Regions from separate parts of the Homo sapiens genome. Here region 1 is linked to region 2. The links come from fine-mapping of genetic effects on gene expression. A gene starts in region 2. The other region holds a variant in brackets. All regions are shown on one strand. Distances are from middle to middle.

Region 1 (8,643 bases), 140 kb after region 2:
GCAGATTATTATTAGTCATTATTAGTTGAAAAAGATTATTAAATATAAACATATGGTAACATATATAATTTGGGGCAAATCAATAGGTTCCTGGGAAAACATTATAGGTGAAGTGCTACAACACTAGGATAGTACATTTTCATGCCAAAATAATACATAGTAGTAGTGAAAGGTACAAAGTAAGTACTGTTTCCAGGGTACACTGAAATGATGTATTATAATGTGTGTATTCAAAATAAATACATAAGGTAAAATTGCCTTGTAGTGTATAATTGGGGAAACCACTATATGGATCTTTTAATGCCTTATACTCTCTTCAACACCCAAGTTCTCAGCAGTATTAATAATTGTAAAATATCTTCAGGAATCTGAATAAGTTCTGCTATTGAGATATAAGTCAAAGAAAGGGAGAAGGATTCAGGTAAAATTCCTTTATAACGACTCTGTTGGACATTCACATTTCTTTAGGAATTGAATTACAGAATTGAAAAATGTCTATCTGGCACAATATCAACTAAAGAGCTCTATTACTGGTACTTTCCTTCTCTATTCCTACAATACCCTCAGTAATGACTAATTCAAGGTACATTATTACAATGTCTTCAAAATCATCAAGAATGATAAAGACCTTTCTAGTTGTTTAGGTATTAAATGCATCATATTATATTCTAACCTTTAAAAATTCCCATACAGTATAACCCTATGTTAATAAGTATATTTAATGAACTAGAATCCCATTTCCTGACCACGCTGAATAAGAAAAATAGATTATAATACATACATGGCTCTGGTCAGCAAAGAAATAAAACAAAGATAACATATAACTTTGCTTGGCAATTAAACAATATATATACTACCTTTGTGATCTTGGGCAAATTACCATGTCTCTGTTTCTATATCTATAAAATAAGGATAAGAATATCTATCCCATAGGATTGTTGTAAAGATTAAACATTTTAATGCATATAAAGTATATGGAATGTGCCTGACACACAGTAAATGCTCAATTAAATGAAAGCTATTATATGAGAATGTATATACGCTTACTCCTTTTATCCTCAAAATTTCTGACTTTTAATTCACATATGTATTTGATTTTGGAGGTAAGGCAATTTTTTTTGTTTGTTTTTGAGGAAAGGCAGTGTTAAGTAATTATTGATAGTTCAAAATACCATAAGGGCCACTGGCCTCTCAAGCACAGCTCCATTTTCTCCACTAAAGCTGGTCTTGATAAGGTCACTGATCTTTTTGGTCATTATTTTACTATACTATATGGTATATTCAACACACAAAACCTTTTTGTCAGAGAGGGAGTAAATATTTATGGCAACCTGATCAGAAAAGTATCTTCCACATGCTATCTGTAGTGACATGAAGATAGCTTGATTATATAAAGACTTTTTTTTTTCTGAATTGGTATCTGTTGTGAGTTTTATCTACATAGGTCAGTTATCAACTCTTTAAAATATAAGAATTTTGTTTTTCATAAACCATCAATAAAAATTTTCTTTTTGAGAATCCCAAGAAAAGAAAGAATGAATGTACTACCTTTGTAGCAGGTACTTTGTCTCAGTAAAATCAAAATTTCCTGATGGGATTCAGCCATCAACAGTAGGAGTTTTGTAGCAGTACTTCTTATAACTGGACTAGGAGTTGAAAAAAGCTTGAAAATAACTTCATCTAAAATTGAATACAGGGCTTTTCTTCCTATTCTGAGTAAATCACCACTAATAGAACAAAATAAAAAAAAAAGTACCATTACTAATTGATGTACAGGTATCACAACAAATCTAAAATATAAGATTCAGTAACTTGATGCCGGACTGTGTCCTGATCCAAGAATATAACCACTTTTTCAAATATATGTTGGTTCCAAGAAGATATCATATTCAGTCACTTAATATTTATTGAATTCCTACTGTGTGCAAGGTGCCATGTGTGCTAGGTACAATAGAGAATACAAAGTAGCCAAAGGCCTTCTCCTTAGAGAAGCCTGCAATCAAATCAAGGATGAAATATAAATGTGCAAAATACTAAACAATAAATAATTTAAAAGCTTCAAGGCAATGATAAAAGTGAAATCAAGACAGGTACACAGTTAATTTTTAAATGATGTACAAAGACAAAAATGCCATAGGAATTCTATCATGTGCTTAATATAGGAGAAACTTAAAATCTTTCCTTGGTATTTCCTTCATTATACTAACAACCCATCTTGTATTACTGATGTTGTGAAAAATTATCTAAAACTTAGAAATAGTCAAAAGGAAAGGGTTAGTGAGTATCCTTTTATTTACCCCCTTAAGGAGTTATGTGATTTTCTAGGCGTATGTACCTCTGTTTAATTTTCTACTCACTATTAAAATACTTTACAATTCTGTAAAAATAGAGGTTGGCTGGTAGAAAACAATGCTAAAGATTCTTATCTAAGAGCAATGTAAACAGACTCTTATTCAAAGCAATACAAATGATTTCTGTCCAGTAGAAAAGGTAATTCTAGAAGCTACATTGCTTTATAAGTCATATTTTCCTATTAGCAAATTTTAAAAATCTATCAGCAAATTTACTTCTACATTTCTTCGACAAACCAACTCCATAAATCTATTTTCCTCAAATTCTCCTTTGACCCTGTATAAATATCTTATTTGTTCCCTCATTAATGAGTTGCATAAAATTTTGAGCAGTCAAATTTTATATTTGTATAAGACTCATGTTTGAGCTTTTTGAAAATTGTACTTTAGTAGTTACTAAAATAATTTTGTTAAGAGAAAAGAGATCAGCAACATACCTTAAATGTAAAAATCTCTGAGTTGAAAGACTTTATAAAGTTATCCAATCAAAATATGTGAGAATCTTTGTGACATCTACTTCTGTGCCACTGTGTCTCTTACATGCTATTCCCTATGCCTAGGATGCTCACCCTGTCCCATCAGTCAATGTCATCACACTATTCAAAACTCAGATTAAAAAATATGCTCATCTCAGAAAGCCTTCTACAGATATCCCTATCCCAATCTTATCACATCTTTACTCCATATCCCACCAAGAGTTTGTGCTATAATGTAATACAGTAGTTTAAATGCTTTTAGATGCTCTTCAACCTCCTAATCTTAAAGACATCCTCTCTATACCACTACCATCTTATCTCTCTGCTTCTCTTCTAATCCAATTTCTGTTGCCACTATCTCACATCTCATTTCTCAAACCACTGCATCTAGTTTTCATTTTTTACTATTTCACTATACTATCCTTGATAAGTTCATCAGTATAACTTCCCAAATGTCAAGTCACATATATACCATAAGTGATTCTTTTCCTAGACTTGTTTGTATCTGATACTTTCTACTTACTCAGCTTCTGTGATACAAAGTTCTGGTCTCCCCTCTACCTTCCACCCATACTTTTCTGACCATTCTTTTTCATTTGTCTTTGTGGGCTCCACTTCCCCAGTATAACCCTAAAAGGTTATTCCCCAAGACTCCATTTTCAAGCCATTTATTTTCTCATTGTATTCACACTTCCTACTAATCTCACTTTCTGTCATGTTTTTCTCTACCATGTATAAGCTGATTTGTAAATCTGTAACTCTAGTCCCAATCTCTTCCAGAAGTTAGTTTACCTATTCACCTGATGGACATTTGAGTTTTAGCTAGTCCTTGTTTTTCACAAATAAAGCTCAATGAACATTTGTGTATAAGTCTTTATATAGATACTTACTTTTACTGCATGTTGAACTACCTATACTCAACATAACCAACATTGAATTAATCATCTGTCTCACAAAACCAACTTCTTATATATTCCACATACCACAGTCTAATCACCCAATACAGAAAACTTGGTATCATATCTGACTGCACCATTTATTTTATCTACCCCATATCAAAACATTCACCAAGTCATCATAATTTTTGTTTTAAACAGCTTTTTAAAAATATAATTGATATACAACAAACTGCATATATGTAAAGCATATAATTTCATCAGTTTGACATGTTTCACCAACATAAAACAAGAAAATGAATATATCTATCACCCCTAAAAGCTTCCTTGTATTTCATTGTAGTTCCTCCCTTGTTGCCTTCCCTATCATTCTATGCCCAGGAAACCACCGATCTGCTTTCTGAGAAAGTTCCCTTGTATTACTACTTTGCTGCAAGGC[C/CTT]TTTTTTTTTTTTTTTTTTTTTAATTAAAATCAGGGCTAGATAATGGATTTTGTCAAAAGCTTTTTCTGTATCTACTGATATGATGGTATGTTTTTTCCATTTTTAGCTTGTTAACATAAGTTACAATGACTGACTTCAGAATATTAAACCAGCCCTGAATGCCGGGATAAACCAGAATTATTCATGACGTATTAACTTTTTAATATATTGTTGAATTTGACTTATAAAATTTTGTTCAGAACATTTCTATCTATGTTTATGAATATACTGATGAGTAGTTTTCTTTTCTTATAATGTCTTTGTTTGGTTTTGGTATCAGGATAATGCTGACCTTATAGAATGAGTTGTAAGTGTTTCCTCCTTTTCGATTTTCTAGAAAAGTTTGCTTAAGATTATTATTTCTTCCTGAAGTGCTTAATAGAATTCACAGTGAAAAAGCCATCCAGACCTGGAGTTCTCTTTGTGGGAAGGTTTTTAGCTACAAATTCAATTTTTTTTTATAGCTATCTAGAGTATATTTGGGTTCTCTATTGCTCCTTGAGTAAATTTTGGTAGTTTGCGTCTTTCAATAAATTTGTCCATTTGATCTAAGTTGTTAAATTTATAAGCATAAAGTTGTTTATATTATTCCCTTGTGATATTTTTAGTATTTGTAGACTCTGTTACGATGTTACCTCTCTAATTCCTGAGATTGGTCATTTGTATTATGTCTTTTCCTTTCCATATTAATCTTGCTACAGGTTTCTTCTCAAAGAGCCAGTTTATGGTTTGTTTTCTCAAAAAACTTCAATCTTCCCAAAGATCCAGTTTATGGTTTATTTCTCTATCACGTTTGCTTAGAATTTTATTGATTTCTGCTCAACCTTTATCATTTTCTTTCTTCTGCTTAGAGTTTAATTCCCCCTTCTTTTCCTAGTTTCTTAAAGGGGAAAGCCGAGGTCAATGATTTGAGATTTTTCTTCTTTTCTAATATATAGGCATTAGTGATATAAATTTCCCCTAAGTATCATTCTGCTTTAATTAAGAATTTCCCCAGAAATTCTCATGTTGTTTTTATTTCCATTCATTTAAAAATAATTTCTAATTTCACTTTTGATTTCTCCTTTGTCTTGTGAGTTATTTAGATGAATGTTATTATTTCCCACATATTTGGGGACTTTTCAGAGATCTTCTTGGCATCAATTTCCAACTTAATTCCATCGAGGCCAGAGAACATACTTTGTATAACTGAAATCCTTTTACGTTGCTTTTTTCTTTTTTTTGAGACAGGGTCTTGCTCTGTTGCCTAGGCTGGAGTGTAGTGATGTGATCTCAACTCACCGTAACCTCTGCTTCCTGGGCTCAAGAGATTCTCCCACCTCAGCATCCCAAGTAGCTGGGACTAGAGGCACCTGCCACCATGCCCAGCTAATTTTTTGTACTTTTTGTAGAGATGGGGTTTTGCCATGCTGCCCAGGCTGGTCTGGATCTCCTGGACTTAAGTGATCTGCTCACCTCAGCAAAGTGCTGAGATTACAGGTGTGAGCCACCGTGCCCGGCCCCTTTTGTGTTTCTTGAGACTTTATTTATGGCTCGGAATATGCACCCTTCTTTGTAAATGTTCCATCTGCATTTGAAAAGAACATGTATTCTGCTACTGTTTGGTAGAATATTTGTAAAATGTCAATCAGGTCAGATTGGTTGATATTATTGTTCAAATCTGTGGTCATACTAATTTTTTTGTCTACTTATTCTATTAAATATCAAAAGAGGTATATTAACATCTTTTGCTTTAATTGAGGATTTCTCCTTGTAGTTCTTGTCAATTTTTGCTTGTGTATTTTAAAACTCTATTAGGTCAATAAACACATCCTTTTGATGAACTGACTTTTTTTATGATTATGAAATAACCTTCTTTAGCACTAGAAATATTCTTTGTTCTGTAACTTACTTTATCTGATACTAATACAGGTACTTCAACTTTCTGTGGTATAAGCACGGTATATCTTGTTCCACCCCATTACTTTTAACCTACTTGTGTCTTTATATCTAAGGTGCATTTCTGGTAGACAGCATATAGTAGGCTTGTACTTTTTAAATCCAATCTGTCAATCTGTCTTTTAACTTTAGTTTTTCCACATTTACATCTAAGATAGATAGGTTTAAATCTACCACTTGGTTTTGTTTCTCCTTTGTTCTTCTTTTTTTTTTACTTCCTTCTTCTGGATTGCGTATTTTTTAATGATTAATTTTTATTGCCTTTGTTGGCTTATCAGCTGTAAATTCTTTGTTTTGCTATTTTCTTCACTGCTTTGAGGTTCAAAGTATACATTTCAATTTCTCACAGTCTTATCACTTATCACAGTGATATTATACCACTTCATGTATAGTATAAGAGTCTTACATCAGTATACTTCCATTTATCTCCTCCCAGCCTTAATGCCCTTTTGGAATACATTCTACTTATACATATGTTCCTCAAATACAGCATTATTTTTGTGTAGGCAAACATATTATAGATATATTAAAATAATATAAGAAAAACTATCTTATATGTTTATGTAATCACCATTTCCGATACTCTATTTCTTTGTGTAGATGAATTTCCCTTCTGATGGAAGGACTTCCTTGAATATTTTTTGTAGTGTTGGTCTGCTGGTGATTTCTGAAGAAGTATTTCATCTTTGCTTTTGAATATATTTCTGCTGAGCATGTAATTCTAATTTGACAGTTTTCTTTTTCAGTATTCAACTGTCTTTTTACTTGTGTTGTTTCTGATAAGAAAGTTGCTGTCATCCTTATCTCTATTTCTCTATATAATGTTTTTTCATCTCTGGTTGCTTTTAAGATTTTTCTCTTTATCACTGGTTTGAGCATTTTGATTACGATGTGCCTCAATGTGGAATTTTCTTCATATTTATTGCCCTCAGGGTTTGACGACCTTTTTGCATCTGCATGTTTATAGTTTTCATCAAATTTGGAAAATGTTAAGTCATTACTTCTTCACACATTTTTTTGTGACCCTACTGCCTGCTTTACGTACTCTGATTACACTTATGTAAGGTTGCTCAAGTTGTCCCACAGTTCACTGATATGCTTTTCTTTCCTCTTGTTTCTTCTTTGTTTCATTTTGGATAGTTTCTACTGATACGCCTTAAAGTTCACTAATCTGCAATGTTAATCTGCTGTTAATCCCATCCAGTGTATTTTTCATCTCAGATATTGTAGATTTCATGTCTAGAAATTCACTTTGAGTCTTATATGTCTGTATTCAACTTTTTAAATATATGGAGTATGGTTATAATAACTAGTGTCCTTGTCTGTTAATTCCAACATATGTACCAGTCTTGATTAATTCTTCTCATTTTAGATCCTGTTTTCTTGTTTATTTGCATGCCCAGTACTTCAGTACCAGTAAAATCAAATCACCCGTTGAATCGTAGTATGTTTTGTAGCATAGTCATGACTGTATAATCTATCATGTATCAGTACTGCAAGATACATGCAGTACTGCAAGTAGTTATCAGTAACTGCAAGAAATAGTCATTTTACAGTAATAAAGAAATAGAAAAAAAGAGTCATCAAAGCAAATATTCTATGATGGCACAAGTGGGATTTTTCTCATCCTTTTTAAAGCCAAATCGAAGGATAGCCATTTCTAGTGAACTTCCTACCTTTGTATAACCTACAATAAAATTAATTTTAAAATACAGCCAGGTTCAATAACCACATGCAGTTAAGTTACTTGGAAACAGTTTGACCCTTTTGGGTCTTGCTTTTATGATCTGGAATAGTGCTCATTCTAATGCTAATTATTCCTCACTACTGGAGTAAAACCTTCCTGAACACTCTACCCAATGACGCACTGTTTATGAGGCTTTCCAGTTTGGCTGTTGGAAACAGGCACTATTTCTGGCCCTGTGTGAGCTCCTTGCACTGTTCCTTTTAATCCTTTTGGATTATTGTTTTCCCTGGCATTGGGTATTCCTTACAATGTGCAGATCAGTACTCTACTTAATACTTGAAGGATACCCTCTGCAGATCTCTGGGGTTCTCTACATGTATAGCTCTCTTCTCTAGTATTCTGACTTGTGAACTCTAGTTATCTTGTTCTCTCCAGACTCTGAGCTCTATCACTTCAACTCAAGCTGGCTGGGATGCCTCTCCCTATACTTCAACCTGGAAACTCTCTCAATACTGTAAGTTAGAGCAATTGTAAGATTCACCTTGTTTATTCCTTTTTCTCTGGGCTTACTTTCTTTCACTGACTGATACCCAGTTTCTCAAAAAATTATGTGTCATGTTTTTGTCCTTTTTTTCAGGTGGGAGGATAAATGCATCCCTACTATTCCATCTTGATCAGAAGTGGAAGTAAAGTCCTGATGATTTTAATTCATTATTTTAAAACCTCCATATCCCAGGTACCAATGCCCAAGGACAAGTTATCATTACTTCACTTGGATTAGTATGATTGCCTTTTGTGTCTAGAGTTTTCTTCCCC
Region 2 (8,563 bases):
AAACACAATAATACATAGACATGAACTACCCTATCCTTTTCCTCCCTCACCTTCCCCCAAGTCTCCGAGTTTTCTTTGGGCTCTTCCCATAACCCCCTTCCTTTTCTCCAGTCCTTTCGGCACCTACTTGATGTGTTCTGTGCGTCCAGACCCCTCGATGGTCTTGGCTCCCCATCGTTGCTCCTTTTCAGAGATGTCATTCTGCAAACGACAGCACGCAGTAATACATGACGGCAAGAAATGTGCCACATTGAGAAGGGCCACCCAACTGACACATGCCCTCCATGTCCCCTGTGTCCACTGCCTTCTTCAGTCTGGGTCTTTATTCACATCCCCTCTATATTTATCCCATCCTGACCCCATGTAAGAATTAAACTGGTGAGGCCAGGCGTGGTGGCTTATGCCTGTAATCCTAGCATTTTAGGAGGCCGAGGCGGGTGGATCTCTTTAGGTCAGGAGCTCAAGACTAGCTTGGCCAACATGGTGAAACCCCATCTCTACCAAAAAAATACAAAAATTAGCCAGGTGTGGTGGCATGCACCTGTAGTCCCAACTGCAGGGACTACTTGGGAGGCTGAGGTAGGAGAATCGCTTGAACCTGGGAGGCAGAGGTTGCAGTGAGCTGAGATTGCACCACCGTACTCCAGCCTGGGTGACAGAGTGAGACTCTGTCTCAAAAAACAAACAAGAAAACACAAAGAATTAAACTAGTGAGCTCTGAAACCTCCGTTCCTCCTCTGCCTACTTCATGCCTACCCCATCTGGTCTCCTACAGCTTTTTAATCCCCCAATTACACATGCCCAGCTTGAATCCTGGATCATGGGCCAGGGGAGACCCAGGTTCACCTGCTTCTCACCTTCAGTGTAGCCTGCCATGGCCTGTCAATCACACTGTCAAACTCACCCACACCTGTCTCTTTTCATCCCTGATACCAGGTATCGTGCATGCCCCACAGGTGACAGCCAATTGTCCTACCAATTAGTCCCAGTATGAGGGCTGTCTCAGTCCTAGAAGGCCCTTTTCCAAGCATCCTCAAAGATCACAGAGTGGCCCAGATGCCCTCCTCACCCCACCCTCTGCACTGTCCAAGCAAAGCTACTTCCAAACTCACCACAAAGTCAGGATCTGTGTCCCAATCATCACCCTGGGTCTCCACGGAAACAGACACATCATGGCCCACTACAGACTTCCACATCTGAGAGTGACCGGAGATGGGAATAATTAGGGACAAAAAAGGATCAAGAGGAGGGAAAATAGGAATGCTGAAGTCAAAATATAGCAGCCCAATATTTCCTGCCATTTTTTTTTTCTTAGAAGAAAATAGAAAATGAAGCAAAGCAAATGGGAGTTGTAGGAAGGCTTTTCTGCTCAGTTACAAGATGAGAGATGGGACTTTAATCAAGACGAATTGATGTGGGCTGGGCCCACCTGGGGCTAGAGAGAAGTCATCATGGGTGTGGGTAACACTAGGTAACCCACGAGTCAAAATTGCTGGAATTGTTCACTTGTGTCCCGAGGCCAGCCAGGCAGTGGCTGGAGGTGGTTGGCAATGAGCGGTGCTATAATATCCCTAGAATTATGGCCTTATTTCACTCAGGTTTCTATATATGATTCCTTTGTTGCTGTTGAAATACAAATTGGTTCTGCTTCTCACAAAGTGAACATCTACATCCCTCTTTACAACCTGCTGAACTACACTGAGAATTTTTCCAGCCTCTGGTCCAAGTGCTGTCCCACCTCCACCCTGAGTCTGGTCACCTCACAGCTGTGTAAGGTCAGCAGCGACAGTCGGCTGAAATTTCCACATGGAACAATGCATTGGGAGAGCATTATTTGCTGGGAATAAGTCAGTTATTACTCAATTTTTTAAAAATGGTTCAATTAATTGCTAAAGTCAAAAAATAGCATGTTTTCAAGTTGACAATTTACCGTAGAAAAGAAAAAAGAATAATATGTAATAAATCTGATTTTGAACATTAAGAGGTACTCAGTTTTTATCAACTAAATAAATGTTGCAGAAATATTTAGAGAACCCTAGCTTGGAAGGGTGCCAAACTTATTCTGCTGGGGCATTCCCAGTGTTCTAGACGGCCTTCCGGACTGTGCAGAAGGAAGAGCGGCACAGTTGCTCTGCATCTGTGGATTTGGTGTGAAGAAGTAACAACAGACAATGCTCATCTGCTGTGGTCACCACTGAGACTTCTTGACCCTGGCAGCACTTGCTAGCTGGCAATCCTTCCCTCCTCAGACACCTCATCCCATTGGAGACCTTCCCCATGCTCTCCATCGTCTCCAAAGAGTCCCTTTACAACCACTCCTCGGGTTCTCCTGTCTCCACCTAGGCCTTCAGATTCTCCAGTTTTCTATTTCCACTTGAAAGCTCCATCTTCTCCATTGAGCAACCTCTTAAAAACCAGCCCAGGGGAAGTCTGGGTAAATCAGTTAAAGAGATGCTAAGGGGACACCGGAGAGATATTGACTGAGTCAGCCGGGAGTCATGGCTGAAAGCAGCTTGGCTTTCCCTGATGCGGTTGGAGACAGCAAAACATCCTTACTACCTGCATCCTTACTACCCCTCTGCTTCTCATCCCCTGGCTCCTGGGCTGCTGTGCAACAACAAAAGGACTGTCACACAGAAAACTGGAATGGAGAAGTTTCTGAAATAGTCATGAGCAATAAGGAAGCAATGAGGACTGATGGTCCCATCCTCCTTCCTGTGGCTCCTCTGAGGCCTCAGCCTGACTCTCCCATTCACCCATTTTTGAAATAAAGAGTTTCTGAAATAGAGACAATTTATCTAATATCCTTGACCTATTGACCAGAAACCAGAAAGGTAAGAAGTGCTATCTAGAGGTGAGAACCAGAGAGTAATCTGGTGAGGCCTTGTTGCGATGCTGACCTCCTGCATCAAAGTACACAGACTGGGAGTCAGAAGCCCTGGCTGTCACCCCAGCTCTGTGACTAAGCCTCTGAGGGACCATCACAAGGGCATCAACAGAGTAGGTACTCATTTGCCAGGTATCAGACCAGGCGATTAAGAAATACTAACTTTAATAATTTGGCAAATCAGCAATTATCTCTGATTTTCCCAGTGGAAAATAATGAAGGGGTTAACGTAGCTCATCTGTGGTCTCCTTGATTTCTGACATTCTGAGATTCTGTGATCTACGAACACAGAAACTAGCCCCAGCAGAACAATCATGCCTTCTCTTGGGCTCCATCAGCACTTGGTACTCAGTGCTAGTGTACATCAGTGACTACTTCCTGATCTGTTACATTTCCTGTGTGGGTTTGTTTCCCTGAGACCATATGCTCTTCAAGGGCAGACACTGTTTTCGTCTCCTGTGGTCCTCCTCCCAGCTCAGTACCTAGGGGAGACAGGCCTTAGAGTGGGTTGTAGATTGTCAGCAGAAACCAGGCAACACTTTGCTTGATGTTGGTGCTAGATGGCTCCTGAAACACTTGCCTTGGGTTTAAGCCCCTCCCTTTTGTTTCTATCTCCAGATGCTGATTTGCTACAACCACTCACAACCAGGCCTTCTGGCCATAAAAGGATAAAAGCCTACTAGTGGTGACCTTGCCCATCACCAAGGACTAAGAGCCAGGTAGGTTCCTCCTCAACTCTTACTCTGTGTTTCCCAACTGTCCCATGGCTCAGAGTACCCACCTCCACCTGTGCAAGCCTCTGTTCTAAGCGCCCGGCTCCTCGCGTCCACACCGACTCCCTCTCTGGCTGCTGCCACTTCGGAGTGAGAAACTGAGCTGCTGCTTCAGTTCCGTATTCAGGTTTTCGTCATTTCCTGCCACCCCATCCTCACAGCTACTTCCTGAAATTTGAGTCAGTTCCTTCTGCTTTAGACACTTAAATTTTAAAAGGATTAAATGTTTCTGTGCCTGGTCTTTTGCAAGGTTTTGACAATGGGGGTCATAGAGCAGTCATAGAAAATGCTGCTTTGACTCTGAGTTTGTAATCCAGTGAGAGAAACAAACATTCAACCAGAAAACACATTAGAGAATGCTGTAGAACAGCATTGTGTCCTAAATAGGGTGGCAGTTACATTTGAGACAGTAAAGGAATTCAGAGCATTTGGTATTGGGTGTATTCATCAAGAAAGGCTTTATGGGAAAAGTGATTTATATGTGGGTTTTGAAGCATAAGACTTAAAAAGAAACTCACCCCTATATTACCCACAGCACTTAAAAGTGGAGTTTTCATATAGATGTTCAAATAAACGTCGACCAATTGAATGCCAGAAGAGAATAACTCATGAGGGAAAAGGCAAGACATGGAAGGAGAGTTTCCTAGCTTGTTTGGGGCACTGTGGAGTCTGAGCTAACAAACTAAAGATTTGGCTCTAGAGCGTAGGAAGAATTCTGAAAGAACCAGGTGCTGGTCAGCTGATGGAAGAAGGTCTTTGTGGTATCCTGTTTTACTGCGTGTCAAGACTTGCTGCCCCTCCCTTCCCTCTTGAAGTCAGACTTACTCAGGTGACTTGTTTTGGCCAGTGACAGATACCACTTTCTGGCGGAGGCCGTAAGACCACTGCAAGCTTTGCCATGCTTTCACCACTGCCCAAGGCAACCTGCAATTCTCCATATTGGCTCCTCCAGCAGACTGGGTCCCTGAGTGAGAAAGAACACAAGTGGAGCCCCATCCACCATGTGGGGGAATTGGAGTCTTTCACTAAAAAATAGTCCTTTGTTTTGGCTACTGAGAATTTGAGGGTGTCTGTTATTGTATCTGACCTAGCCTTTCCTAATCTTGATTGTGGACTTCTTGATTTGTTCACAACGGTGCATCCTCCAAGGAGTTTAAGCAGGACTGGATGAAACTGGCCCATGATACAGGCACTTTTCTGCATTAGGAATATGAAGCCTCTGTCACTTCCAAATCTAAGGATTCTATGCCTGGGGGAGCTTTATTTATTCCTTCTACTTTATTACCTATTTATCATGGTGGTACCAAAGTTATGATAAGGAAGAGTACGTTTGTACAAGAGAAAAATCACTTGGAATCCTCATGTAGTGTCAAAATACGATTTAGACTAGATGATGTGACACACCATCCAGGTACATAGTTCTCTAGAGAAAATATAGAAATTAATCAGAGATGACACCAAGAAGTCCCATCTTTCCTTAGCAAATGTCACAAGTTCATTACTGATGAGGTAGTGAGGTGTATCACACAGAAAAAGAATGGGCCTTGAAGCCAGACAGACTTGGTTCAATTAAACCACTTATTGTACTTTGAGAAAGTGAGCTATCTTCTCTCAAGCAGCAACTTAATATAAAAATCCATAATAGCTGGGCACGGTGGCTCACACCTCTAATCCCAGCACTTTGGGAGGCTGAGGCGGGTGGATCACAAGGTCAGGAGTTTGAGACCAGACTGGCCAACACAGTGAAACTCCATCTCTACTAAAAGTGCAAAGATTAGCCGGGCATGGTGGCAGGTGCCTGTAATCCCAGCTATTTGGGAGACTGAGGCAGGAGAATCGCTTGAAACTGGAAGGCGGAAGGTGCAGTGAGTTGAGATTGTGCCACTGCACTCCAGCCTGAGCGAAAGAGTGAAACTCGGTCTCAAAAAAAACCCAACAAAACAAAACAAAACATAATAATGCCTATCTAACCTGCTACATGCTATTAAGCTTCTCTTCTCCCATTCCCACCCAGAGGGATCCCTAGGGGCCTAATGTTTTCACTATGTGCCAGACAAGAGTTCTCCCAGGACCATGCATGGACCTGCATCAATTTCATGCCCTAAGGCCCAGCTTATTTGGTTCAGTATTAGGATAGAATTTCCTCACTGCATTCATCACCTGGGGTCTAGCAGCTAAGGCTGGAAAAATGCATGCAGCTGTCACTGATATTGGCCAGTGAGAAGAAAGCCTGAATATGTAGAGCTTTCTACCCCTATAACCATTCCTGGCTACCTCCTTTCCCTACTTCCCTTACCCACCTTCCACCCCCCAGCATGCAAACACAGGTACCGAAACACCTGTGCACATATCCATTCACTCACACGTACACACACATACACACAAACTCTTCATTCTGAAAATAATTTTATTATTTTACAGTTGTTCAGGAAACTTCCCAGGATGTTGTAACCAAGATTTAATCACCACAGTAGATTTAGAGCAGATCAGTCAGCCCACTTGTCTTCTCTCTTCTTTAGGGAGAGGCTAGGCAGTGAACACATCACGTATGCAATGAGAAAATAACCAACTGGTAGGATGGGGGAGGGGAGGGGAGGCAGGGAATAGGCACAAATGGAATTCTATCCTGGCTGTCCTTCTCAGGTCTATCTATATTTAATTTTGTCTTCTCTATATTCTCCTTCCATTGCCACAGAGGGCAGAGACAATGGGGCTGAGAAACTGTAATAACTGTCACTAACAGCAAAGTAGCTTAGTACTTCAAGAGGTCAGGAGTTGCAGTGTGGTGTTAGACCAGTCAGACTCCTGGCTGAGAGTCAATGCCTAATATTGGCTCCCAGTGGCCCCTGAGCACTGTCTCAGGGTCCACATTCCAGGAATATTCAGATATTCCTGGAATGACAAGAATTGGAACCCTGCTGTCCATAGACACTTCTCCCTGCCCTTTGGTGAAAGGAAAGACTTGGGCCACTTAATACCTTAGTATACATGTGATCAAGGGCAAAAGCAAAGGGATTCTATCCTTATAGTCTAAGACCTGAAATTCTCCCTCCAATTATATCTGAAATTGGCAGGGAAGAAGATGCTGTCCTCCCATGTGATCTAACAGCTAAAACCCCTAGGGAGTTCCTTCAGCTTTCACCACCCTATTCTGCAAGAGACCTAAATCAGATGTCCTATGAGGTGACATGTTCATTTCCCTGAACTCTGTTTATGGCAGAGCCACCTTCCCCCTGAAACAGGAGAAAATACAGGCAAACAAGGCAAAGAAAGTTATCAATCAAAATGATACTGAACTTCAGATTATTAGGTTTATTGAAACCATCCTCTTGGCTTGGCTGAAAGACATTCCTCAGTATCTTTTACAGGACCACAAAAGATCAGGGTCCTGCAAAATCTCAACAAATATTAGGCTCAACAAACCAAATGTGATTCTCAGATTAAGCAGAAGCGTTCAGGCTCAGGGCAGTAGAAGAAAGCAGACTCGCCAGTCCCTGCAGCTCCAACCTGTCCTCGTATCCACCTCTGTTTTTGCAGGCACTTTCCGTGAAGAGTTGGAGAGAAGACCTGTAAATGGGAAGACTGTTCCACTGGAATTGATGTTCTGATGTTAGAGGTGAGAGAATTCCAAGTTTTGAGGGGAGTGGTCCAAAGAGTAACAACTAAGTCTATAGATGGCCCGTAAAACACAGAATGAGCAGGACATGAATCATTAGAAAGTAGATGGCTGCTAGAAGTGGCACTCGGGTCCGTGAATGACAGAGTGAACGCAGGACTCGCTTCCATCCAACGCCACTCCGGGTCTGAAAGAAAAATGTGAAAGTCAGAGAGTTTTCACCCTATAGGGCTATGTTGCTTTCCCTCCTACTAGTCTTGCACTTAAGCAAAGCTGACCCAACCACTGTAGAAAGGGGTATTCTGAGAGGAAAGTTGCCTCAGAGTCAACAACTTGGCAAATTCCACCAGGTTCTAATCTTCCACGCCCTTCCAGCCTTAGACTCATTCGCTGCTCAGTGGCTGGACTTCCACATTCCTTCTCCTCAGCTCCTTGCCCCCAGTATAGCCAGCCCTGTCAGATAATAAAACACCCTCTCTTTATCCTTCTTCCTCTTACCCTTCGACAACTGTTGCTTGTAAGATCTATTAACAGTGCCTGCTCCTGAGTGCCACAGGAGCCAATGATAGGAGTCCGGGAAGAGTCCCATTCACTGTGCTCTAACCTGAGTTGAGAAAAAAAAGAGGCATAGCATTGGTTCATAGCATGAGAGGCTGATCAGGCCCAGTCTTCCCAGTCATCCTGCCACACAATGCAGCACAGGAGGAGACTTGCAGCAAAAGCTGCTCCCATAAACCCAAACCCATGCAAGGGGGGTACCAGCAGATACGTTTCCTTCAGCAGCAGCAAAATGTGACAATAACTATCAGGAATTGACTGCCTACTCACTATGTATCAGGCTCTAGGCTGGGTGCTTTACATACATTTAATCCTCAGGTTCTGAGGTTGGTCTTATTATCTTCAAAGTGCTAAGGCTTACAGAGGTTAAATTACTTGCCCATGGCGGCACAGCCAGTAAGCGGCAGAGCCAGAATTCAATACCCAACTTTGTCTTTCAAGCCTCACGTTCTTTTTTCCACCACACCACACCTGACTTGGAGAAACTCATTACATTTTTTTCTTTTATTAAAGGCTAATAGGCAAAAGCATCCAAAGAAGATTTCTGTGGGGTTTTAAAAATTAAATTGAACTAAAAAAAATTAAATTGAATTGGCAGTCTCCACTGCCTTCTGGCTCAGTTTTTGCTGATTTGCTTATTTAATACTGGAACTTCTCCATTTAATGAAGAAGCTGCCATTACTCACTCAATGGTTATGTCAAACAAACAAAGGAGCTGCATGTAACACA

Alleles and levels. Alleles are on the strand shown, and positions count from the first base shown. SD is a standard deviation of normalised expression in the study named.
In carriers of allele C in region 1, the expression in lymphoblastoid cells of the gene that starts at base 3,752 in region 2 tends to be lower than with CTT alone (small effect, 0.28 SD a copy in TwinsUK).

The links.
Region 1: its variant is fine-mapped to the expression of HCLS1 in lymphoblastoid cells (TwinsUK, PIP 0.95).

Annotation. Positions count from the first base shown.
Region 1 is chr3:121,797,648-121,806,290 of GRCh38, forward strand. IQCB1 (IQ motif containing B1) reads right to left here. Exons shown (of 15, transcript NM_001023570.4): 8 at 1,549-1,727. Among named protein-coding and RNA genes, the nearest start is that of IQCB1, 33 kb to the right of the region's middle. The variant C/CTT (reference allele first, on the strand shown) is at 4,163.
Region 2 is chr3:121,657,152-121,665,714 of GRCh38, forward strand. It overlaps HCLS1 (hematopoietic cell-specific Lyn substrate 1), which reads right to left and starts at 3,752. Exons shown (of 14, transcript NM_005335.6): 1 at 3,669-3,752; 2 at 1,113-1,196; 3 at 128-201. The coding sequence starts at 1,196. It overlaps GOLGB1 (golgin B1), which reads right to left. Exons shown (of 22, transcript NM_001366282.2): 21 at 7,775-7,880; 22 at 6,050-7,463. The coding sequence ends at 7,329. RefSeq lists enhancers at 3,595-3,784, 3,975-4,024.